7 linked regions of the Homo sapiens genome follow. The protein of the gene in region 2 purifies or fractionates together with the protein of the main gene of each other region. This does not show direct contact. Each region holds a gene or a part of one and is shown on either strand. Other genes may lie near its edges. The genes, in order: HARS1, PPL, USP16, ECI2, G6PD, OLFM4 and MAP7D1.

The links.
Region 1: the proteins of PPL (region 2) and HARS1 fractionate together in Homo sapiens (co-fractionation; one large-scale study listed by BioGRID). This does not show direct contact.
Region 3: the proteins of PPL (region 2) and USP16 purify together in Homo sapiens (affinity purification with mass spectrometry; one large-scale study listed by BioGRID and IntAct). This does not show direct contact.
Region 4: the proteins of PPL (region 2) and ECI2 purify together in Homo sapiens (affinity purification with mass spectrometry; one large-scale study listed by BioGRID and IntAct). This does not show direct contact.
Region 5: the proteins of PPL (region 2) and G6PD fractionate together in Homo sapiens (co-fractionation; one large-scale study listed by BioGRID). This does not show direct contact.
Region 6: the proteins of PPL (region 2) and OLFM4 purify together in Homo sapiens (co-immunoprecipitation; one large-scale study listed by IntAct). This does not show direct contact.
Region 7: the proteins of PPL (region 2) and MAP7D1 purify together in Homo sapiens (affinity purification with mass spectrometry; one large-scale study listed by BioGRID and IntAct). This does not show direct contact.

Annotation. Positions count from the first base shown.
Region 1 is NC_000005.10:140,684,871-140,688,370, reverse strand, and holds part of HARS1 (histidine--tRNA ligase, cytoplasmic), read left to right. Parts: intron 1-3,500. UniProt on the Homo sapiens protein: Catalyzes the ATP-dependent ligation of histidine to the 3'-end of its cognate tRNA, via the formation of an aminoacyl-adenylate intermediate (His-AMP). Plays a role in axon guidance.
Region 2 is NC_000016.10:4,888,649-4,892,148, reverse strand, and holds part of PPL (periplakin), read left to right. Parts: coding exon 1-114; intron 115-199; coding exon 200-338; intron 339-1,227; coding exon 1,228-1,421; intron 1,422-1,814; coding exon 1,815-1,965; intron 1,966-3,087; coding exon 3,088-3,171; intron 3,172-3,500. UniProt on the Homo sapiens protein: Component of the cornified envelope of keratinocytes. May link the cornified envelope to desmosomes and intermediate filaments. May act as a localization signal in PKB/AKT-mediated signaling.
Region 3 is NC_000021.9:29,038,168-29,041,667, forward strand, and holds part of USP16 (ubiquitin carboxyl-terminal hydrolase 16), read left to right. Parts: intron 1-167; coding exon 168-263; intron 264-858; coding exon 859-989; intron 990-1,313; coding exon 1,314-1,401; intron 1,402-2,441; coding exon 2,442-2,520; intron 2,521-3,500. UniProt on the Homo sapiens protein: Specifically deubiquitinates 'Lys-120' of histone H2A (H2AK119Ub), a specific tag for epigenetic transcriptional repression, thereby acting as a coactivator.
Region 4 is NC_000006.12:4,125,576-4,129,075, reverse strand, and holds part of ECI2 (enoyl-CoA delta isomerase 2), read left to right. Parts: intron 1-1,244; coding exon 1,245-1,314; intron 1,315-2,838; coding exon 2,839-2,941; intron 2,942-2,956; exon of another isoform or gene 2,957-3,500. UniProt on the Homo sapiens protein: Able to isomerize both 3-cis and 3-trans double bonds into the 2-trans form in a range of enoyl-CoA species. Has a preference for 3-trans substrates.
Region 5 is NC_000023.11:154,536,847-154,540,346, reverse strand, and holds part of G6PD (glucose-6-phosphate 1-dehydrogenase), read left to right. Parts: intron 1-3,500. UniProt on the Homo sapiens protein: Catalyzes the rate-limiting step of the oxidative pentose-phosphate pathway, which represents a route for the dissimilation of carbohydrates besides glycolysis.
Region 6 is NC_000013.11:53,031,813-53,035,312, reverse strand, and holds part of OLFM4 (olfactomedin-4 precursor), read right to left. Parts: intron 966-3,500; coding exon 813-965; intron 1-812. UniProt on the Homo sapiens protein: May promote proliferation of pancreatic cancer cells by favoring the transition from the S to G2/M phase. In myeloid leukemic cell lines, inhibits cell growth and induces cell differentiation and apoptosis.
Region 7 is NC_000001.11:36,166,160-36,169,659, reverse strand, and holds part of MAP7D1 (MAP7 domain-containing protein 1), read right to left. Parts: intron 1-3,500. UniProt on the Homo sapiens protein: Microtubule-stabilizing protein involved in the control of cell motility and neurite outgrowth. Facilitate microtubule stabilization through the maintenance of acetylated stable microtubules.

The sequences.
Region 1 (3,500 bases), on a different chromosome or scaffold from region 2:
ATAAGAATAGCAGATGTTAATGGTTGTTGAAGCTGGGTAATGGATAAATGGTGACCTGTAATACTATTCTCTATATTGTGTCTTTGAAAATTTCCATACTATAGTGTTAAGATTATGCTAGAGAGTTAATATCCATTTTAGTATTAACAATAGAAAACTCAGTATTGTGGGGACAAGACTCTTTCAAGGGATCTTCATGGTCAAAACTATTTCTATAATAATTCTTTTGTTTTGTTTTGTTTTGTTTTGTTTTGTTTTGTTTTGTTTGAGACGGAGTCTTGCTCTGTCGCCCAGGCTGGAGTGCAGTGGCGTGATCTCAGCTCACTGCAACCTCCGCCTCCCGGGTTCAAGCGATTGTCCTGCCTCAGCCTTCCGAGTAGCTGGGACTACAGGGATGTGCCACCGCACCTAGCTAATTTTTTGTATTTTTAGTACAGATGGGGTTTCACCGTGTTGGCTGCGCTGGTCTTGAATTCCTGGCCTCAAGTGATCCTCCCACCTCGGCCTCCTAAAGTGCTGGGATTACAGGCGTGAGCCACTGCGCCTGGCCCTTCTATAATAATTCTAAGACATTATCTGCCTTTTTCGTTGTGTTAACATTTGCACTGAAGGCACAAAAGCGCTGGTGAGTAGAACTGCTGGTGCCTTAGCATACATTAAGACAGTGACACTAAACTGTACTAATAGCCAGTGTGTTCTTCACTGCCATGCACTCACAGTAAGTAAATAAATAAATTAATTAATTAATTAATTTAAAAAATTCAGTTTTACTTAACTATGTCATTGATAAAATGGTAAAACTTTGTTTGTTTTGGGGTTTCTTTGGAGACAGAATCTCACTCTGTTGCCCAGGCTGGAGTTCAGTGTCACGATCTTGGCTCACTGCAGCCTCCACTTCCCGGGTTCAAGCAATTATTGTGCCTCAGCCTCCTGAGTATCTGGGATTACAGGCGGGTACCACCACATGCAGCTAATTTTTTGTATTTTTACAGAAATACAAAAAACATACAAGAAACCTACAACATGTTTCACCATGTTGCCCAGGCTGGTTTGGAACTCTTGAGCTCAGGCAATCTGCCCACCTTGGCCTCCCAAAGTGCTAGGCTGAGCCACCATGCCTGGCCAAAAACTTACTGATTTTATTGAATCTTGACCCTTGAGGACCCTATTTTTAAATATTTGCTATGACAAAATGGGAAGTACACATAAAGCACTTCTGCACGCCAAGGTAGGGAAAATGCTTATGCCATTGTTCAAGTTGCAAGCTGATCTAGCTACTTTTTTCATAGAACATCTTGTTTTATTTGAATTAACAACTGAAAGATAAATTATGGTTTTTCAAACTTAAATATTTGGCAGACATTTTTACAACAATAAACGAAGTGAGCCTCGTCACCTCAAGGAAAACATCTGACAGTACTTGTAGGCAGTGAAAAAATTCAAGTATTCAGGTGAAAGTTAGAATTTTAGAAAACTTAGTCAGGGCATGGTGGCTCAAGCCTATAATCCCAGCACTTTGGGAGACCAAGGCGGGCGGATCACCTGAGGTCGGGAGTTTGAGACCAACCTGACCAACATAGAGAAACCCCATCTCTACTAAAAATTAGCTGGGCGTGGTGGCGCATGCTTGTAATGCCAGCTACTAGGGAAGCTAAGGCACAAGAATCGCTTGAACCTGGGAAGCAGAGGTTGTGGTGAGCCGAGATCGCGTCATTGCACTCCAGCCTAGGCAACGAGTGAAACTACATCTCAAAAAAAAAAAAAAAAGAATTTTAGAAAACTTGCATCTTCCATCATAAGCTTGACAGCTTCCCAATAATTAAAGAGTTTTCTACTGGGTGTGGTGGCTTACGCCTGTAATCCCAGCACTTTGAGAGACCAAGGTGGGCGGATCACCTGAGGTCGGGAGTTTGAGACCAGCCTAGCCAACATGGTGAAACGCTGTCTCTACTAAAAATAAAAATTTAGCCAGGTATGGTAGCTCACGTCTGTAATCCCAGCTCCTTGGGAGGCTGAGGCAGGAGAATCGTTTGAACCTGGGAGGTGGAGGTTGCAGTGAGCCGAGAACACGCCACTGTACTCCAGCCTGGGTGACAGAGTGAGACTCCATCTCAAAAACAAACAAACAAATAAAAACAGGCCAGGCAAGGTGGCTCATGCCTGTAATCCAAGCACTTTGGGAAGCAGAGGCAAGTGGATCATGAGGTCAGGAGATCAAGACCATCCTGGCTAACATGGTGGAACCCCGTCTCTACTAAAAATACAAAAAATTTGCCGGGCGTGGTGGCACGCGCCTGTATGTAGTCCCAGTTACTCAGGAGGCTGAGGCAGGAGAATTATTTGAACCTGGGAGGTGGAGGTTGCAGTGAGCCGAGATCACACCACTGCACTTCAGCCTGGGTGACAGAGCGAGACTCCATCTCAAAAAAAAAAAAAAAAGACTTTCTTGATGAGATCTGAAGTGATGTAAATAAATAAGGCTTCCTGATATTGTATAATGAAATGTATCAACATTTGAAAGACCTGTTATGAAATCATGCACAGGCAAAGGATCCATTCATTCAAAGTACAAAATACAGTAGTGGATTTTTTTTTGTAGGAAAATATACGTAACATAAAATTTACCATTTTAATGATTTTTTTTTTTTTTTGAGACAGAGTCTCACTCTGTCACCAGGCTGGAGTGCAGTGGCATGACCTTGGCTCACTGCAGCCTCCACCTCCTGGGTTCAAGCAATTCTCCTGCCTCAGCGTCCCAGGTAGCTGGGACTACAGGTGTGTGCCACCACGCCCAGCTAATTTTTGTATTTTTTAGTAGAGATGGGGTTTCACCATGTTGGCCAGGATAGTCTCGATCTCTTGACCCCGTGATCCACCTGCCTTGGCCTCCCAAAGTGCTGGGATTACAGGTGTGAGCCACCACGCCCAGCCCATTTTAATGATTTTTAAGTGTACAGTTCAGTAACATGAAGTACATTCATACTCATAACCATCACCATTATCCACCTCCAGAATTTTTTCATCATCCCCAATTGAAACTCTGTACCCATTAAACAATAACTCCCCACTTCACCCTCCCTCCAGCCCCTGGTAACTGCTATCCTACTTTCTACTTTCTGTCTCTATGGATTTGACTATTCTAGGTACTAGATAAGTGAGAGACTAATTGTTCTTTTTTTTTTTTTTTAAGTTCATTGATCTAGCTTTCAAATTCCACATTGCAACCAATCTTTAAGAAACAACCACTTGTTGGATTCTGATGTAGTACCAAAGAAAAATATCCACAGTTAGCTGAAAAGTTTGTTAAAATACTCTTCCTTTTACAACTACATATCTGTGTAAGGTTAGATTTTCGTTATATACTTCAACCAGCACGACATATCACGACAGATTGAATGCAAAAATCACATATGAGAATCCTGCTGTCTTCTATTCAGTCAGACATTAAAGATTTGCAAAGATGTAAATCAGTGCCACTCTTCTCACTAAATTGTTTTGGA
Region 2 (3,500 bases):
CTTCATCCAGGCCCTCCCAGGCAGTGGCACCACACCCCTGCTGAGGACCCGGGTGGAGGACACCAACCGGAAATACGAGCACCTCCTGCAGCTGCTGGACTTGGCCCAGGAGAAGTGGGTGGCAGACAGGCAGCATGGAGGTTGGGGTGGGGTCAGGGGGCCAGGTGGGCATCCCCCGACGCCTGATTGGTGCTCTCAGGGTTGATGTGGCCAACCGCCTGGAGAAGAGCCTGCAGCAGAGCTGGGAGTTGCTGGCCACACACGAGAACCATCTGAATCAGGATGACACAGTGCCTGAGAGCAGCCGTGTCCTGGACAGCAAGGGGCAGGAGCTGGCGGTGAGTCTAGGGCCCAAGTCCTGGGAGTCCTTCTCTGAGCAGGTGAGAGCATCTGGCACATCCACCCGCCCGTCTGGATAGATGAGGACACCAGCATCCAGTCTCCCCAGGTTTGGAATGCCCAAATTGGGAACTGCAAATGGAGGCCCACAGCACAAATCCAAGCTATTCACGGGATCTGTGTGACTTACGGGATTTCGGGTGCCAGCATTTTAAGATCAAATATCTGCAATAGCCAGTGTAGTGGCACATGCCTGTAACACCAGCCATTCAGGAGGCTGGGGCAGGATTGCTTGAGCCTTGGAGTTTAAGTCCAGCCGCCTGGACAACGTTGCAAGACCCTATCTCTTAAAAAAAAAAAAAAAAAAAAAAAAGCATAAAGCACATAACAATCCATGTTCCCAGTATCTCTTGCTGAGCAGAGCTGGCATCCTGGGCTGCAGCTCAGAGGGCAAGTCAGTGGGCAGAGGAGCAGCTGCCTTCTCGGCCTGCTTACCTCGCAGTTGCCACGGGCCCCCTTCCCACACTGCCTGAGCACAGGAAACATTCAAGTCTGTGACCTGAGGCCCCTTATTCACACTCCCATCTCACGACTTGCTTTTGCCACAGCCTCATGACCAGACAGTGGCAGGCTGTTCTCGCGCAGGGCACGAGCTGCCTGCTGCAGGGTTTTTAGAAGTTAGCTTTTCAGGGCTTTGTTCATTGTTAAAAAACAGAAGATGGCAGAAGTGACCCAGGTTTGGGATGTACAGAGCAAGGCTCCGGTCCTTCCTACCTGTGGCCTTGCCCACCCTCCTACAGTCAGTGGCCCAGGGGCTTCAGTGGGTGTCATCGCCTGGCTCTGGGAGCTCTGGCCGTAGCACCGCCGTCTCCTCCTCTGCCCCGCCAGGCCATGGCCTGTGAGTTACAGGCCCAGAAGTCCCTCCTGGGTGAGGTGGAGCAGAACTTGCAGGCGGCCAAGCAGTGCTCGAGCACACTGGCCAGCCGCTTCCAGGAGCACTGTCCGGACCTGGAGCGCCAGGAGGCCGAGGTGCACAAGCTGGGCCAGCGTTTCAACAACCTGCGCCAGCAGGTGGAACGCAGGTGAGGGTGCGGTGGGTGGTGGCCATTTTTGTTTTCTGAGAATGCGATCTAATTCCCTCTAAGCAATGCTTTAGCCGTGTCCCACAGATTTTGCTGTTTTTCTTTTTGGTGAGTTCGTCAGATTCTCTGACGGCCCTGTGGTCTCTCTTTTGAGTCATGCTTACCTGGGTCCTGTAATCCACAATGGGCATCTCTGCAAGTCAATGTATATGGACCCACCTGGTTCTCCACAGTCCAACCTGACGTTCCCTAATGACCACCCACCCTGTGTGGGAGATACTTGGGGTATTTCTGGTTGTTACATTTGGTTGTTTCCCACTTTAAAAAAAAAAATGAGGGCTCGGTGAGGCATCTGTTTGCTGTGGCTGAGGCCTGAACGCTTTGCCTTGACAGGGCGCAGAGCCTACAGAGCGCCAAGGCAGCCTACGAGCACTTCCACCGCGGCCATGACCACGTGCTGCAGTTCCTAGTCAGCATCCCCAGTTACGAGCCCCAGGAGACAGACAGCCTCAGCCAGATGGAGACCAAGCTGAAGAACCAGAAGGTGAGATGGCCGTTTCCGCAGCCCCAGGCACACACTGGCAAGGGAGGGTCAGAGGTCAACAAGCCCCTTTCTGGGGAGCCAAGCCTTTGGGAGGTGGAGCAGGGCAGAGGCCTGCCACAGCTGTGTCCTCCCTGGGCCTCAGCTCAAGCTCCCAACACCCAACCCTCTGAGAACAAGAACCGAGTGTGTCGCTCACCTCTCCCAGCTCAGTGCCCCGCACAGGGCCTGGTGCAGAATGGACACTTGGCGTGGGTTGGCTATGTGAGTGAACAGCTACAGAATGAGGAGCCGCCTTTGTGGGGGAAATCCCATTTTCAAAGTTGGGACTCCTGCCTCCCCCATGCCCAACGCAGTGCCTTGGGGTGAGGGAGGAACACGGGAAGCCAATGGCTGAGATGCAAATCCCGGGTCCACCCCATCAGCCACATCCCCACCTCAGAAGCTTTCCTCACTCATAAGCTGGAGGTCACGATGCTTACCTCCTGGCATCGTTTGAAGATTAAATGAGATAATCTAAGTCAGACAGCAGAACAGTGTCTGGTGGTCCAAATCATCAGTAAACATTTGTTTCCTAGCAGAGATAATGATCTTGGCCCTTCTTCACAGAGCCTTAGAACTGCCTTTTGTGGCTGGGCGCGGTGGCTCACACCTGTAATCCCGGCATTTTGGGAGGCTGAGGCAGGAGGATCACAAGTTCAGGAGTTCAAGACCAGCCTGGCCAACATAATGAAACCAAATCTCTACTAAAAATACAAAAAAAAATTAGCTGGGTATGGTGGCAGGAGCCTGTAGTCCCAGCTACTTGGGAGGCTGAGGCAGGAGAATTGCTTGAACCCAGGAGGCTAAGGCTGCAGTGAGCTGAGATCGCGCCACTGTACTCCAGCCTGGGCGATGCAGTGAGACTGTCTCAAAAAAAAAAAAAAAAAAAAAAAAAAAAAAAAACAACAACAACAAAAAAACTGCCTTTTGCAATGAATAAAAATGTATACAAGGGAGCCATTCATCATACTTTGTGCTAGAGAAGAATAAATTCAGATTCTGAGATTTCCAGCTACTGCATCCATGGTTGCTTTTTTAAATTTTTTTTCTGGTTAGTTTTGATTTTTAAACTCTGTCTTACAGAACCTGCTAGATGAGATAGCAAGTAGGGAGCAGGAAGTACAGAAGATCTGTGCCAATTCCCAGCAGTACCAGCAAGCTGTAAAGGTGAGCCGGGAAACTTCCGCCCAAAGCACAAACAGCAGGGGTCTTATTCCACCGTGCCCTGGTCAGAGAAGCAGCAAGCACCGGCCCTGGCACATGGGGGTGGAGCTGGCCATCCGAGGCACTGCCGGCTGCTGTGCAAACTGGCACAGGCTTTTGGGAAAACAGCATGGTACTAGACATGGAATGCTGTAAAAGGGTTTTATACTCTGAAGCAGTAAACACTTTGGGGGAATTTATCCTTAAGGAAAAAGTACAAAAAAAAAAATGCAGGATAAACAACATTGTTGCAACAGCACTATTTACAATAGCAAAACTAGTACGCTGGAAAG
Region 3 (3,500 bases), on a different chromosome or scaffold from region 2:
ACCCAAATAGAGTAGGGAGAGAAGCATCTGTAACTTTTCATTTTCCAAGTATAGAGTTTTCAGTGTTGGTCATGATTTTCTGTTTTGATAGAATAGACACTTAAGAAGTGTCAGAGTTGATTTGCCTTTAAATAATTTTTCTCTTTTTTTTTCACCCTACATTCTAGAACTTGTCACAAACACCAGTGCTTAGAGAACTACTAAAAGAAGTGAAAATGTCTGGAACAATTGTAAAAATTGAACCACCTGATTTGGCATTAACAGTATGTTCTTTAAACTTTTCTAGTCTGTAACTTTCCTCTCTGAATGTGTGTTTTCTAAATTATTTTAAATAACTGACACTCATTTCCACTGTTTTTGTTTGTTTTGTTTTACTTTAGGCTACTAACTTAAACAGTTTCAGGCTAATAGAAGTTATAAGGAGGCATTACATCTGTTTGCTGTGTGTGTGCTCTGTTTTTCTATGCTCGAGTGTTAAGCTTCCTTCTTGGGAATGTGTATATGTTTGAGAAGCCTTAGGCTTACATTATTATTTTTAACATCTTTAAGGTGACTTAAGAGCTGTGTAACCAAATAAATATTACCTTATCCATTTTTATTATTTACATTTTGCTTTGGCTCTTTCAATTCTTAGGTAGTAAGTGTTCCAGATAATCTAAAACTAAAATAGTAGAGCTGAATTCTGCATAAGACAGTCTGTGACCAAACAGTTTCTATCTCTTTTGATGTACATTTTAAACTTTTAAATGGGGCAGTTCTGTCAGGAACATTGGTAGTATATGTTAACTAATTAGATTTTAGTAAAGTCAGTGATTCCAGAATTTGACTGAAGAAAGTAATTTCTTTTCCCATATTCAGGAACCATTAGAAATAAACCTTGAGCCTCCAGGCCCTCTTACTTTAGCCATGAGCCAGTTTCTTAATGAGATGCAAGAGACCAAAAAGGGGGTTGTGACACCGAAAGAACTCTTTTCTCAGGTCTGTAAAAAGTGAGTATCCACTTCGATTGTGCTTTCAGTGCCTCAGTGAGATGCTGAGAAATAATATTAATATTAAATAGTAAAATATAAAAATATTAATAGCATTACATTTAGTCAACCCTCTATATACAAAAGGCATAGTTTTTTTTCATTTGGATTTTAAAATATATTTTATGTGATAGTTAAATCTCCCAAGGGTGTTAATGGACTAAACGGAAATTTGTAGAAACCAGAACTCTCTGAGATTTGGGATATGATCCTAAGATTTTCTAAAAATAGCTTCAGAGCTTAGTAGACTGAAGATTGCTTTTCTGTCTTTTTGTTTTTCTCTAGAGCAGTGCGGTTTAAAGGCTATCAGCAGCAAGACAGCCAGGAGCTGCTTCGCTACTTATTGGATGGGATGAGAGCAGAAGAACACCAAGTTAGCATGTTATGACCATTGTATTTTATGATCTTATCTTCATAAGCTTTCTGTCTCATTTGATATCTTACGAGTTAAAACAATGAAAGCTAGTTATTAAGGCCATCATACTTTAAAATTTTTTCTTACACCAGCTTTTTCAACTAGTATGTTTTCACCATTAGAATGAATCCAGAGAATTAGCAGTAATTCTCTTTCTCATGATGGCTTAAGTTTAGTTGATGTTTACAGCATTAATGTTCTTTAAAGATTCTGTTGTACTAACCTATACGAAGAGAGCTGCCAAATATTGGAAATTGTTTCTCCCAAACCCAGGTGCAGCACACCCTTACTTTTAATTCTGAGTCTGATTTAATACTGTTTTTTGAACCTAGGAAGTATTTTCATTTTGTAAGAGTCAGGGAACATTGGTTGCATTTTAAAATTTTTGTTACTTGCCAGGATATAAAAAAATGTATTTGGGGTATGAATTAATGAGTACTAATAATAGTGATAATAACTAATATTTATTTCGCACTTATTTTTATGCCAATCACTGTTTTCAGTGTTTTGTATTAATTCCCTTACTTCGTTCTCACAAAGTTTCTGTGAGGTGGATACTGTGATTTTTTCCTATTCCATAGATTGAGAATCTAGGCTGTAGAGAAGTTCAGTACCTAGTTTAAGGTCCCCCAGAAATAATGGAGCTGGGCTTTAAGCACTGGAGTCAGACCCTGTGGCTGTCATGTAATCATTGTGCTTGTAGGACAAGCTATTTCAGTTTCTTCTCAAAGGTGGTGGGCATGTTCTGAAAACCTTTGGCTTGAAGAGGTTTAAGATCTTGAAATGATAAGATAATACCTTTATTCAATGGTTAGTGATTGCTTTGTGACATAATTCCTTTTTAGCTCCTTGAATTAAGTTTGAAAATGTGATTTTGGAATTATTTAGTAAATATGGGGAGCTGTATCCTGATCACTTTCTTGACTTGATTACATATTTCTAAGGAAAATAAAATTTAAAATTTAATAGTATATATATATCCATTTTATTACTTTTAGAGAGTGAGTAAAGGAATACTTAAAGCATTTGGTAATTCTACTGAAAAGTTGGATGAAGAACTAAAAAATAAAGTTAAAGGTAATGTCTGACTTTTTGAACTAAAACACTATAGTTGAATTCCTCTGTACCTTAGGACAAGATTGCTGGCACATATATTTCCAAGTCCACAATTATTAATGTATAATTTCTCTTTATCAACGTTGATTAGTAAAAATTATTCAGTGCTCCAGAAGTGAACAGTTTTACCCCATGGTGTATTCTTTTTATGTATTAAAGATAGAACTATGATGAATTACAGTTTTACTTTTCAAAAGCTTAAAATTATAATTAGCAGTAATACATGAATTATATTTGTTACTGTGAGTTGTCAGTAGTTGGTTTATTAATCATGGAGCCAACTTAGTTCTTATTATGTGGCGTGTAAAGATTTAGGGCAGATCTGCCCAGTAGAACTTCCTATGTTGATGGAACTCCTCTATACCTTTGCTGTTCCATATAGAAGCAACTAGGCACGTGTGGCGCCTGAAATGTGACTGGTGAAACTGAGGAACTACATTTTTATTTTTATTTAATTGTAATTAAATTTAAATAGCCGTAAGTGACTAAGGGCACTGTATTATAAAGCACAGATTTGAATCAACTCATAGCAACTCTTTGCCTCCTTGGTGCCCTTTAGAGCCTGGCCAGTAATGGAGAGAATTACCCCTGCTGGCATTTTCTGTCAGAAAAGTGTGGTTCTGCATAAATTATCATTTGAATAATGCTTATAGGTTTCACGTATTTGGAAAATTGGCTGATCAAGTAGTAAAATTATGGCTTTTAGTTATATTAAACTTATCAAGATTATTTCTGGGAGCATAGGAAAATAAAAGGAAGATTTTGTTTGAAATATTTTCCTGAGGTTTTTCTTTTGTTTTTAAAATATCAAAGGAGTTCAGTCTTAGAGTTCACAAAACAAGTTACATGCATTTTCTCTCCCAGTTTGCTACTCTGGTATCTTTTATCAGTCTTGAATGTTAGAATGTTAGAGCTAGAACTAAGGAACTAGGCTGTCATTC
Region 4 (3,500 bases), on a different chromosome or scaffold from region 2:
CATCTCTTAATCCTGGTCTCACCAGTTGGAAGGAAGGAACCCTGATAATCCATCTCCTAATCCTGGTCTCACCAGTCGCCCTGCTGTGTGGTGTTATCATAACTATAATAATGATAGAATGAGTTCCTTATCACTTCCCTCAGGAGAAATGCTTAAACGCTTATTCATGTACAGTCATCCCTTGGTATCCGATGGGGATTGGTTCCAGGACCTCCGTGTGGACAACAAAATCCGCGGAACCTGAAGTCCCCCATAAAAAGGCATAATATTTGCATATAACCTCTATATACACTCCCATATACTTTAAATCATCTCTAGAGTTATTATAATACTGAATACAATGTAAATGCTATATTAAATTGTTGTTATACTGTATTGTTTAGGGACTAATGATAAGAGAAAAAGCCTGTACATGTTCAGTATAGATACAGAATTCTTTTCCAGGTATTTTTGATCTGTGATTGGTTGTCCATGGATGTGGAACCCGTGGATACGGAGGGCAGGCTGTTTTATGTAAAGTCCATGTGTCTTTTCCAGTATATTTGTATCTATAAGTATCAGCCCTCTTCCTCATTTCTTTCCCACACTGAAATCTCATCTAAGGTTGAAATTGCACCTGTTTTAAATGCATTAAAAGCTATATAGCTGCTTGTCCAAGATTTTCAGAAATGTTGCTGATTTAAAATTTTGAGCCACCTTCCTTGAATACCATTACAGTGTCTTGAAAATTCCAGCCTTTTGGCAGTCACTAACACTTCCCAGACTGCCAGGGGCTTCCTTGAGGTCACAACAGAGACGTTGCTTTGTAGAAAGTTTTCTCTGACCACCTCCCACTCTGCCCACACTAGATAAGCCTCAGCACCTCCTCTGAGTTCCCTGCTACTTTGTACTTTCCAACCCCCTCCTCATTTGAACATGTTAATTCCAAATTGAACATGTTAAGTCCTCTGTTAATTCCAAAAGCTCAAGGACTATTTCTTTCTTGGTCCCTTTTGGAAAAAAAGTGGTTTATAGCCTGCAGCTCCTGCCATAGCACCAGGTACATAATATGCACCAGGTAACTGTGAAAGGAATAAAAATTCCTTCAGTTATGTTGGTCCACCTTTTTGGTTATAAAATACAACCAAAATAAATGTTAGGCACTTTGCTGAGAGCAAGCTTGCAGCCTGACATTTGTTGAGTCCATTGATTGATGATTCCTGTGTTCAGAGTTCTTTTCTTTTCCTTGTCTTCCCATTACACAGATGTATCATGAAATTATGCGTGCACTTAAAGCTGCCAGCAAGGATGACTCAATCATCACTGTTTTAACAGGTAAGACATTTTCTCAGGCATCCTAATTAAATTTCTATTTTGAGGGGCCTCTTAATAGATAGGAAATTGAGTTAAAAAGCTCTAAGACCTGGAGGCCGAGGCAGGTGGCTCCCGAGGTCAGGAGTTTGAGATGAGCCTGATTAACATGGTGAAACCCCATCTCTGCTAAAAATATAAAAATTAGCCGGGCATGGTGGCACACACCTGTAATCCCAGCTACTCAGGAGGCTGAGGCAGGAGAATCACTTGAACCTGGAAGGCAAAGTTTGCAGTGACCCGAGGTCGCGCCACTGCACTCCAGCTTGGGTAACAGAGTGAGACTCTGTCTCAAAAAAAAAAAAAAAAAAAAAAAAAAAAGGCTCTAAGATCTTTTCCAGTACTGTCATACTCTGATTTATAAATATACAAAAAATGTTTAAAAAAACACAGATACCCACTCCTTCGCAATTACCCAACATCAATTAAGACACATATGTCCACCAAAAGACTTTTACAGGAGCAGACATGGTAACCTGATTTATAACGGCCAAAACCAGAAAACAAATGTTCAAAAACACATGGATGAATAAACAAATTGTTGACTATTTGTACAATGGAATACTCAGCTATAAAATGGAATAAATGATATACACAAGAATGTGGATGCATCTTTAAAACACAGTTCAGCAAAATAAAGACAGGAGTGTACATACTGTATGAGTCCATTTGTAGAAAGTTCTACAGTAGACAAAAGTTCTTCTCTGTGGAAATTGAAGTCAGAAAGTGATTGCCTTGGAGCAGGTGGGGTGGGATAGCTAGGAAGGAGCCTACGGGAAACTTTTGGGGTGATGGAGATGTTCTGTATCTTGTTTTGGATGGTGATCTTGTGGGTATTTAAAATTATTAAAACTCATCTAAATGAACATTTAAAAACTGGTTGTTTTATTGTATATAAATTGTACTTTAATTAAACACACACACTCAGAAACATACTTTCAGTGGCTCTTAGAATAAAGAAAAAACTTCCTCATGGGATCTACAAAGCACTGTCAGGTCTATTCTGCCAGTCCTCATCCTGCACCGACTTCCCCCTGGCTTTCCCTGAGTCAGCTACAGTGGCTCTTACTTCATCTACAGTGGGGATAACCTCTCCAAAGAGCCTTTGCACAGGCTGTTCCTTTGTGTAAACTGTTCTTCCCAGCCCTCTTTTTCTAGCCCACCTGGCCTCTCCTTCAGATCTCAATTCAGTTGTCGCTTCCTTAGGAAAGTTCTTTCCTGAACTCCCTGATTAGACCAACCCTCCTGGTACATACCCTCATTTCATGACGCACCACTCCTCTATTTCAACAGTAGCATTAGCTACATTTATCGGTGTGTTTTTATAGATCAGTGTCCAGCGTACTCACTAGTTTGTAAGTTAGGGCAGGAACCATTGCTCGTTCTCCAATGTATTTCCCTTGCCTAACCATAGAGTTTGGCATGCAGTAGATACTCAAGAATTATAGGATGATTGAATGAGGGATCTGTTGATTTTCTTACTTATAGGAAATGGTGACTATTACAGTAGTGGGAATGATCTGACTAACTTCACTGATATTCCCCCTGGTGGAGTAGAGGAGAAAGCTAAAAATAATGCCGTTTTACTGAGGTAAGAGTTACTGACCTTTGTCTGATCCCAGAGGGCCCGTTCTTAGTCATCAAAGTGGTATTTAGTTGAGCAAAAGTGCAATATCTGCTTCTCTGTGTCAGTGCAGTTAATTGTGACTTTGGACAAGCATATTTCTCTAAACTGCCTCCATCCATAGGTGGGCATTCATTCTTTCTCTTTGACCTCTGTTACCTGTTCATCCTGCTGGTCTCATGAGATTTGACTGGAAAACATAAAAGTGAGCTATAGTTGTAAACAAAATTATCTTGCACTGAGGCAGAGGAATTTAGCAAATTCTCATCCAGCCAGAGGAATGGGAGATTTCCATGAACGCTGAAGGTAGGAGACTCGGAGGAGTCTTGTAAACACAGGAGGAGGTCATGAAGGCTTTTCTCTTTATTCCTGCCAAATCTGTAATTCCCACTTGTTGTGATATTGCAGCATGTGCTCAGTCACCCAACCTAATCTCTAAGACTGCGGCTGGTTTACAGCCCTGAACTCACTGTCCAGAATACAAGATTCAAACCAGGGTTGACCCATAGGTCTCACTGGTTGGTCT
Region 5 (3,500 bases), on a different chromosome or scaffold from region 2:
CAGGCGCGCACCACCACATCCAGCTAATTTTTTGTATTTTAGTAGAAACGGGGTCTCACCATGTTGGCCAGGATGGTCTCAATCTCCTGACCTCGTGATCCACCCACCTCAACCTCCCAAAGTGCTAGGATTACAGGCATGAGCCACCGCGCCTGGCCTGTATTTTTAGTAGAGACGGGGTTTCACCATGTTTGCCAGGCTGGTCTCGAACTCCTGACCTCAGGTGATCCACCCTCCTCAGCCTCCCAAAGTGCTGGGGTTACAGGCATGAGCCACCACGCCCAGACTATTAGTTTTTACCATGTTTTATTGAAATATATGTCATGGGCCGGCCACGGTGGCTCACGCCTGTAATGCCAGCACTTTGGGAGGCCACGGCAGGTGGATCACAAGGTCAGGAGTTTGAGGCCAGCCTGGCCAACATGGCGAAACCCCATCTCTAGTAAAAATACAAAAATTAGCCGGGCGTGGTGGCAGGTGCCTGGAGTCCCAGCTACTCAGGAGGCTGAGGCAGGAGAATGGCTTGAACCCAGGAGGTGGAGATTTCAGTGAGCCAAGATCACGCCACTGCACTCCAGCCTGGCCGACAGAGTGAGACTCCGTCTCAAAAAAAAAAAGAAATACATGTCATGAAGAACACAGATGGTGCAGGTCTAGCTTGTTGATGACTTTTCACAAACTCAGCACAGCCACAGAAACTGCTCCTAGATCAAGAAACAGAATATGCTCTGCACCCAGGAAGCCCCCTCACCTGGGGCTCTCACAGTCACTGGCCCTCAAAGGGTCATTTCTGACCCACTCCCCACCCTCCGCTCCATTGTTGGTTTTCTCGCCGTCTTTTGTTGGTGCGCAAATCTTAACTGTACAATTGGCTGTACACCCTCATCACAATAAAGGCCATCGTCATCTCCCCAGAAAGTTCCTGGGTACCCATTCCCAGCCAATCTGCCCTGCTCCAGGCAACCGCTGATCTGATTTCTGTCACAATGGGTTGCATCTCTGATGCTGAGATTTCCCAGTGTTGCTGAGTAGTATCCGTTGTATGAATGCACAGTTTGCCGGGTCACATGTTAATTCAAGTGTTTGACTTGTTTCCAGTTTGGGGCCGCTATGAACCAAGGCTGCTGTGACCATTCGTGTGCAGGTCTTTGTGTGGACTTGCACTTTCATTTCTCTTGGGGTGGAACGGCCAGGTCACAGGATAGGTGTGTGTTTCACTTGATCAGAGGGAGCACCCGCACCACCTCACAGCTCAACTTCAGCCATTTTCATTTTCTTGCCTTACTGCACTTTTCTTGTTCCTGATTGCTTAAAGGGATGATTAATATTTCAGCATTTCCTATAAGTGTGATATTTGTAGTATTTGTAAGGATGATGGTTTGGGGGTTTTTTTGTTCTTTGTTTTTTGGTGGTGGTTTTTTTTTTTGAGACGACGTCTAGCTCTGTTGCTCAGGCTACAGTGGTGTGATCTCGGCTCACTCCAGTCTCTCCCTCCTGGTTCAAGCGATTCTCCTGCCTCAGTCTCCTGAATAGCTGGGATTACAGGCATACACCACCATGTTCAGCTAAGTTTTGTATTTTTAGTAGAAATGGGGTTTCACCATGTTGGTCAGGCTGGTCTCAAACTCCTGACCTCAAGCGATTCCCCGCCTCGGCCTCCCAAAGTGCTGGGATTACAGGCTTGAGCCACCACGCCCAGCCAGAATGGTGTTTTATAGATGCCCTTTATCAAGTTAGTGAAGTTCCCTTGCATTCCCCCTCTGCTAAGAGTTTTAGCGTGAATAGGTGATTTCTGAAACACTTGATCTACATCTGTTGGGTTGAGCAAGATTGCTAGATTTAAAAAATCAAAACATAGCAGTAGGCAGAGAGTTCTTAGAGGTTTTTTTTAATCTCTTAATATGGTGAATTTCAATGATTTTTTTCTGTTAATATCAAACCAACTTTTTATTTACAGATGTATTTATTCTGTAAATAAAAAACCTACCGTTTTTAACATTGCAGGATTTGGTTTGCTGATGTTTTCTTCTTTTTTTTTAAAGAGACAGGGTCAGTGGGTCGTCGTGGCTCACGCCTGTAATCCCAACACTTTGGGAGGCTGAGGCGGGCAGATCACTTGAGCCCAGGAGTTCAAGAGCAGCCTGGACAACATGGGGAAACCCTGTCTCTACAAAAAATACAAAAAATTAGCTGGGTGTGTTGGCATGTACCTGTAGTCCCAGCTACTCCAGAGGCTGAGGTGGGAGGATTGCTTGAGCCCAGAGGCAGAGGTTGCAGTGAACTGAGATCGTGCCACTGCACTCCAGCCTAGGTGACAGAGTGAGACCATGTCTTTAAAAAAAAAAAAAAAAAAAAACCTCCTGATTTCAAGCAATCTTCCTCCCACCTTGGTCTCCCAAAGTGCTGGGGTGTGTGAGTTGTGCCCGGCCTGCTGATATTTCGTGTGGGATTTCTGCATCTGCATGTGTGTGTGAATGAGGCGTATGGGTTTTCCCATGTGCCTTTCTCATCAGGTTTCCGTACCAAGGCTCTGTAGGCCCCATAAGGTGGCTTGGGAAGTGTTCCCCTTTCTTCCTTCTGCAGGAAGAGTTTGCTTCAGGCTGGAATTCTCTTGTGCTTGCATTTTGGTAGAACCCACTGGCAACACTCTCTATGCCAGGGGGTTGTTTCTGTAGGAAGATTTGTGGCCACTGTCCCCTCTCAGGTCCATTGCTCTGTTTTTTGTTTGTTTGAGACGGAGTTTCGCTTTTGTAGCCCAGGCTGGAGTGCAGTGGCTTGATCTTGGCTCACTGCAACCTCCGCCTCCCAGGTTCAAGCGATTCTCCTGCCTCAGCCTCCTGAGTAGCTGGGATTACAGGCATGGGCCACCATGCCCAGCCAATTTTGTATTTTTAGTAGAAACGGTTTCTCCATGTTGGTCAGGCTGGTCTTGAACTCCCGAACTCAGGTAATCCATCCGCCTCGGCCTTCCAAAGTGCTGGGATTATAGGCTTGAGCCACCGCGTCCAGCTGTTTAGTTGTTTTTTTGTTTTTTGTTTTTTGAGACGGAGTTTCACTCTTGTCGCCCAGGCTGGGGTGCAATGGTGCAATCTTGGCTCACTGCAACCTCCATCTCCCGGGTTCAAGTGATTCTCCTACCTCAGCCTTCCGAGTAGCTGGGACTACAGACACCCGCCACCACGCCTGGCTAATTTTTTGTATTTTTGGTAGAGGCGGGGTTTCACCGTGTCAGCCAGGATGGTCTCGATCTCCTGACCTCTTGATCCGCCTGCCTCGGCCTCTCAAAGTGCTGGGATTACAGGAGTAAGCCACTGTGCCCGGCCTATGCCCTTTTAAAAAAGCAACCATGCCAGGGGGTTGTCTGTTTCTATTCGTCTTTTTCAAACACCAATTTCCAGCTTTGTTCATCTTTTCTTTGGGTTAGCTTTTAATTTTATTAATTTTACTTGTCATTATTTCCTATTTTCTTCCTGGTAATTTGGCTTGCAGTTCTATCTTTT
Region 6 (3,500 bases), on a different chromosome or scaffold from region 2:
AAAATAAAGAGACTACAACCTTGGATTTCACTTGGAGAAAATAGAAAAAAATAAAAGAGACTACAACTTATTGTCACAAAAAAAGAGAGTGAGGGGGAGAGAGAAGGAAGTGAGCAATTTGTAAAGATAAAAAAGGGTTAAAGGAAAGAGAGAGGGAGGGAGGAGGATGAGAGGGAGAGGATTTGAAGGAGTGGAAGTGGAGGAAGGGAAAAGAAGGAGGGAAAAAAAGATCATCTAAAAGTAAGAAAATACCCAAAAATGTCCCCCCCAAAAAAGAATTAACCAGGAAAGGAAAAGAGAGATTAGAAGGGATGAATAAGGGCAAGGATTGAGGCAAGAGAAATAAGAAACTAAAGGATGCAGGAATGGAATAGAAATAGAAGAAAAGGAAAAAGAGAAGGGAGATAGAATAGAACTAAAGGGGATAGAGGAGAAGAAAGAAAAGAAAGCAAAGCTTGAGGAAAGACCTAGAAGACCAAAAGGAAGAAGCAGCGTCAAAACAAAATAAAAATTGCAGGTTGGGGTTTGCAAGGAGAGCTCAAGGCTTCTTTCCAACTGCCTAAGTACCACAATACTATAGTGAGTTTATCCACGGCGTGAACAATTTGAACCCCACTTTCTTCCTGTGCTCTCATTTTCCCTGCCTTAATAAGAACTCCATTGGTGTCCTATAAAATAAATACTAAAATCACCATAGAATAAAAACGTGATGTCTTTGATAGTGAAGAATGATTGCTTATAAAATCCTAAATTAAAACACATTTTGTTTTGTTTCTCTTTATCAAGATATTGTTTGAAAAGAAAATGCTTACTTTGGAAAGTTCTTTCTCAAACTTCTGAGAAAGAACATGAGCTGTGAATTCCAAGCGTTCCACTCTGTCCACGGGAAAGGTGGTGTCTGGCAGGGAAACAGAGCACTGGCAGGTCCCACGGTCATCCACGGAGCCGGTGAAATTGGAAAACAACTGCAAATAATAACAAGTTGAACATCAATAACAAGCTGGAATCTGAGCTTTTGGCAACTGGAGTGACAGAAATTGGCTTGTCGAGAGTACTTACAGGCAAGTAAGTGGAGTCCAATACATAAATGAATAGAATCATAGAAACAAGCTAAAACAGCTTTGTTTTCACAGGTGGGGACCACCCAGCGTTTAGCCACATCGCCACTGGTTGTACGAAAACCACTACGCCAGCAGACTTTACCTAAAGGAAGATTCCCCATTCTCGAGGCTTTTTTTTTTTTTTTTTTTTTTTTTGAGACGGAGTCTCACTCTGTCGCCCAGGCTGGAGTGCAGTGGCGCGATCTCGGCTCACTGCAAGCTCCGGCTCCCGGGTTTACTCTATGCTCCTGCCTCAGCCTCCCAAGTAGCTGGGACTACAGCCCGCCACCACGCCTGGCTAATTTTTTGTATTTTCAGTAGAGACGGAGTTTCACCGTGTTAGCCAGGGTGGTCTCGATCTCCTGACCTCGTGATCCACCCACCTCGGCCTCCCAAAGTGCTGGGATTACAGGCGTGAGCCACCGCGCCCGGCCATTCTGGAGTCTTAAAGGAGATTATTCCTATCTCTATGCAAGGAAAGGGAAATAAAGAAGCTATGAGAGTGCTAAGTTTGAATTTCAATTCTAGCACTTGCTAGATGTGAAATCTCCTTAATTCTTAGTTCCTTCATCTGTAAAATAGAGATAACCTACTTCACAGGGTTGTCCTCAGTATTAACGAAGTAATGTGAGCCAAGTCCCTGGCACAGAGTAGGTGATCTGAAAATGTCACATTCTCTTTCCTTCTACTGCTCATTTTCTCTTCCTCACCTTCACCCCAACCCAATCCAATTCCTTTTCATCAGAATGAGGGAATCACCAAAGATGTGGGCTACAGTGAAAATATATGATGCAAATTCATATCCTCTCATCGCCTGGGAAATTGCAAATTAACATCCTTCAAAATGGGAACCAGCCATTTGTTAGAAAGTGAATAGCGTATGAGCTTGAAGGTTTTGTGCAATTTTTTTTAATAAAAGTTTTTTTCCAGCTTACCATTTGCAGAAAAAGTCATTTTAAAATATTTTATGTTCATTTAAGATATTCAGACTCACACTTCAGTGCCACCGCATATTTTTAAATGACACTTTTGAAAGATCCTGTTTTTCTTTTGTCCCCTTTGAACTTCCCCAAGAGGATCCCAGCACAATTAACATTTTTTTATTACTACTATTGCCTTACAGAGTAACCCTTGGCAGCCAATTTGCTGTGCCTTTTAATGATCTCATCTGAAAGCCAACCCAAAGCTCACCTGTGGAACATCAGCCTGAAGGGACTTTTTATGAAACCTCTAAGGAGACAGCAATGGTCTTCAGAGCCAGAAGTGACTCTGGCCATGTCTCTCAAAGTTCAGGTCAGCCAGCTGCAGGTGGTGTAATGGGTCCTGTGCATTTAATGGCCACCAACCTCCATAATGCCTGATCAAGCTGGGTCTAGATGCTTCTATAATGAAGACTTATTTTATCACTGGCCTCGGGGCCAATCAAGGCTTTTGCATCTAAGTTGTTTTTAATTTAATTTAAGTTTCAAGATGAGCAGAAAAAAAAAATATGTGTGTGTATCCAATCATATTTTTTATGTGTTTAGTCAAAATTTATTACCTTGGTCTCAATTTTCTTTTCCAATCACATCCCTACGTGGGAAACAGTTCAGGAGTAGGGAGGAGAAACAAGCAGATTTATGTCGAACATAGGGGTGGACAGCAGGGTTTGAATAGGGGAAGGGTCTTTGCCAGAGATGAATAAAGACTCGGTAAGATACACCAGGAACCTATCAGAGAGGCCAGCTTCCCTTGAAACCAGCTTTACTCATTTCTCCAAAGATAGAAAGACTCCAACTCAAGCATGCCAAGGCTTTTACAGAAAAGACCGACATATCAAGGACTTTTGAAGAAATAGCTTATTATAATAACAGTCTAGCAAAAAAAAAATCTTGCATTGCATTTTAACAAGGGGAGTTTAATTAGCTGCACAAACAGGGTTGGGCCATTCTCAGAGTTCTCTGAAAAATTCTGCCAACTCAGAAAACAGTGGATATCATCAAGCAATCTCTAGACAGTCAATTAGGAACCACTAGCTAACAACTTTTAGTCCTGAAGTTCACTTGAAAGACAGACAAGTAATTATGAGCCCTGCTGTCAGCCATTCCATCGGTTTCTATTGAACATCTCTGTCCCAAAGCTGTGGACTCCCCCAGCTTCCATCCTGCTTATCATCAGCCCAGCATGCTCAGCTGACATCAAAATGGTCCATAAGTTTGATCAGTGTCTCCCATTAGAGATATTTCTGCTCCTCGCATTCAAAGACAATGAAGCTAATGGTGATGAGTCTCTCTCTGCGGTGAATGCCCAAACTCTACATGAATGAAGCATGGGGGATGGGAGACAAAGACAAGAGCTTGTCCCCTTGGCCTTTGGAAGAATATGCGATTCCCCTTCTGTAGGGCAAATAGGACCCTGAGT
Region 7 (3,500 bases), on a different chromosome or scaffold from region 2:
CTGAGGAGATCAATGGGAACACAGCTACCAACTTGCTTAGGGAGCAGGGCCGGCATCTGTGGGAAGCTTCATCTAAGGAAACATTTTTCTTTTTTTTTTTTTTTGAGACGGAGTCTCGCTCTGTCACCCCGGCTGGAGTGCAGTGGCGCAATCTGGGCTCACCGCAAGCTCCGCCTCCTGGGTTCACCCCATTCTCCTGCCTCAGCTTCCCGAGTAACTGGGACTACAGGCGCCCGCCACCACGCCTGGCTAATTTTTTGTATTTTTAGTAGAGACGGGGTTTCACGGTGTTAGCCAGGATGGTCTCAATTTCCTGACCTCATGATCCGCCCGCCTCAGCCTCCCGAAGTGCTGGGATTACAGGCGTGAGCCACTGCCCACCGCGCCCGGCCTTTTTTTTTTTTTTTCAAGACAGAGCCTTGCTCTGTTGCCCAGGCTGGAGTGCATTGGCACGATCTCGGCTCACTGCAACCTCTGCCTTCCAAGTTCAAGTGATTATCCTGCCTCAGCCTCCCAAGTAGCTGGGATTACAGGCACCTGCCACCACGCCCAGCTAATTTTTGTATTTTTAGTAGAGACGGCGTTTCACCATGTTGGCCAGGCTGGTCTCGAACTCCCGACTTCAGGTGGTCTGCCCGTCTCGACCTCCCAAAGTGCTGGGATTACAGGCATGAGCCACTGCACCCGGCCTTATATGTTATTAGTTTTAATCCTCACTGACAATAGTTATGAAGGAGTCCTCATATAGATGAGGACAGTAAAGTAAAAAAAGATGAAGCAAAAAAAAGAGGTAATTTGAGATCATTCAGCTGGTCAGTCAGGGAGCCTGGACTTGGACCCAGTAGCCATCATCAGAGCCTGTCCTTACCCATTATACCCTCCTGCCTTGTTGAAGGCAATATGAGGGAATAGGTGTTACGCAATAAATTATCTGAGGCTCACACTATTTTCCGCCTCATTCCTTCCCATCCAGCTTGCTAGGATCCAGGCAAGAGCCCCAGCTGAGGCCCTGTCTTCCCCATTACCCCTCCAACTCCACCAACTCCACCAACTCCTAGGCTACATGACAAGCCACCCATCTCTTCCCATACCAGCAGGAGACGGCTGCCTGGTCACTGCTAATCTATTTCCCAGCCAACTGCAAACTCCTTTACCAATTCCAGTAGTCAACAAAACCAGTTACTCACTCTAGTGAGTGCTTACTACTCACTAACAGTGGTGCACCCTGTGTCCTCGCAATTCTGAGAGGCAGAGATTCTTATCCCCATTATACAAGTGTGGCAACCAAGGCCCAACCTGCAAAGTGATCCACACAGAGTCATAGAACTAGTATGTGGCAGAGTTGGGCTTTTTTTTTTTTTTTCCTGAGATGGAGTCTCACTCTGTTGCCAGGCTGGAGTGCAGTGGTGCGATCTCGGCTCACTGCAACCTCTGCCTCCCAGGTTCAAGCAATTCTCCTGCCTCAGCCTCCAGAGTAGCTGGGACAACAGGCAGGCACCACCACACCCAGCTAATTTTTGTATTTTTAGTAGAGACGGGGTTTCACCATGTTGGCCAGGCTGGTCTCCATCTCTTGACCTCGTGATCCGCCCTCCTCAGCCTCCCAAAGTGCTGGGATTACAGGCGTGAGCCACCGCACCCAGCCTAGAGTTGGGATTTGAACTCAGGACTGTCTGAAGCCAAAGCCTGGGTGTGTAAGTATTAAGCTTGAAGGTTGAGGGTGAGGTCTGTTTATTGCCATTCTCCAAGCACCTGTGCGTGCTGCAGGTGTTGCAAGGAAAACTGGTAGGCGGGTGTTTGTCTACACCTAGGCAAATCACACCCACCAGGCAAGACAGTCAGTGAGTCCCCAGCAAGGTCCTGACTCGCTATGTGAAAGGAGGCTGGGAGGAGGTAGAGGAGTGAGGCTTGGAAGAACCTGCACCCAGGCATCAGATGCAGTGGAGCAGAAAGGTCACAGGCTTCAGAGTCTGACAGGCCTGACTGAGGACCTCGGCTCCCGGCGAACCTCGGGCAAGCCCTGAGCCTGTGTAACCACAGTTCCCTCATGGAGTTGTTGGCACACATGGGGAGTTGGTACAGACGGGTACATCATCGGTGGCACCTGGCAGGGGCTTGGTAAGCAGCACCTGCCCCGAAGAATATATCCACGTCTCCTCATCTCTGCCAGGAGGAAATGCTTCAGCCAGGCCTTACCCCCACTGCTCTGCAACATTGCACTTCTCAAGGACACCCGTGACCTCCATGCTGCTAAATCCAGCAGGCAGTTTTCCATCCCTCATCTTCCTTGGCCACTATGCAGCTGCATCTGCCACAGTTGATTTCTGACTGCTCCTTGAAACACTGTCTTCACCTGGCTTTGAAGACAGCACATTCTCCTAGTTTTCCTTCTACCTTGCTGACTGTCATTTCTCAGTCATCTTTGCTGATCCTGCCTGAACTTCCCAACCTCTCAGCGCTGGAGTGCCCTAGGGCTGAGTGGAGGACCTCATTTATTTTCTATCCACACGCACTCCCTTGGTGACCTCATCCAGACTCACAGATTTAAATACCATCACTGCTGACGACAACCAAATTTGTGTCTCCAGCCCAGGCCTCTCCCTTGAGGTCTAGTTTCACTCATGCAACTCCCAGCTGCTTGACACCCCTGTGTGTCTCAAAGATGCCCCCAATTTAACACATCCCAAACTGAGCTGCTGATCTTCCCCCAAAAGCCTGCTTCTCCCCATTTTCCCCATCTCAGTTAATGACAACTACATCACACCTCATGTCTAATCTCTCAGCAAATCCTTCTGCCTTTATCTTCAAAACAGATCTCAAATCTAATCATTTCTCACTGTCTCCACTTCTATCACTTGGATCAGAGCTACTATCAGCTCTGATAAAAGACTCCCTGCTCCAGTCTTTGTTCCCCCTGGGTCTTTTCTCAACACAGTAGCCAGAGTGATTCTGTTTAAAAATAAGTCAGATTGGCCGGGTGCGGTGGCTCACGCCTGTAATCCCAGCACTTTGGGAGGCCAAGGCAGGCAGATCACGAGGTCAGGAGATCGAGACCATCCTGGCCAACACGGTGAAACCCCGTCTGTACTAAAAACACAAAAAATTAGCCAGGCATGGTGGCAGGCGCCTGTAGTCCCAGGTACACAGGAGGCTGAGGCAGGAGAATTGCTTGAACCAGGGAGGTGGAGCTTGCAGTAAGCCAAGATAGCGCCACTGCACTCCAGCCTGGGTGACAGAAGGAGACTCTGTCTCAAAAAAAAAAAAAAAAAAGGTCAGATCACGTCACTCCTCTGACAAAATCCTGCAATGATTCCTCATTTGAGGGGAAGAAAAAGCCAAAGTCATCATGATAGCCTATTAAGGACTCCCCAGGATCCTGACCTCTTCGACCTTGTCTCCTCTTCTCCCCCTGCTCAGTTTTTCAGCCACTGTCCCTTAAGGGTGTTGGGGAGATTTCTGCCTCAGGGCTTTGTACTGAGGAAACAATATTTCCTCAGTGG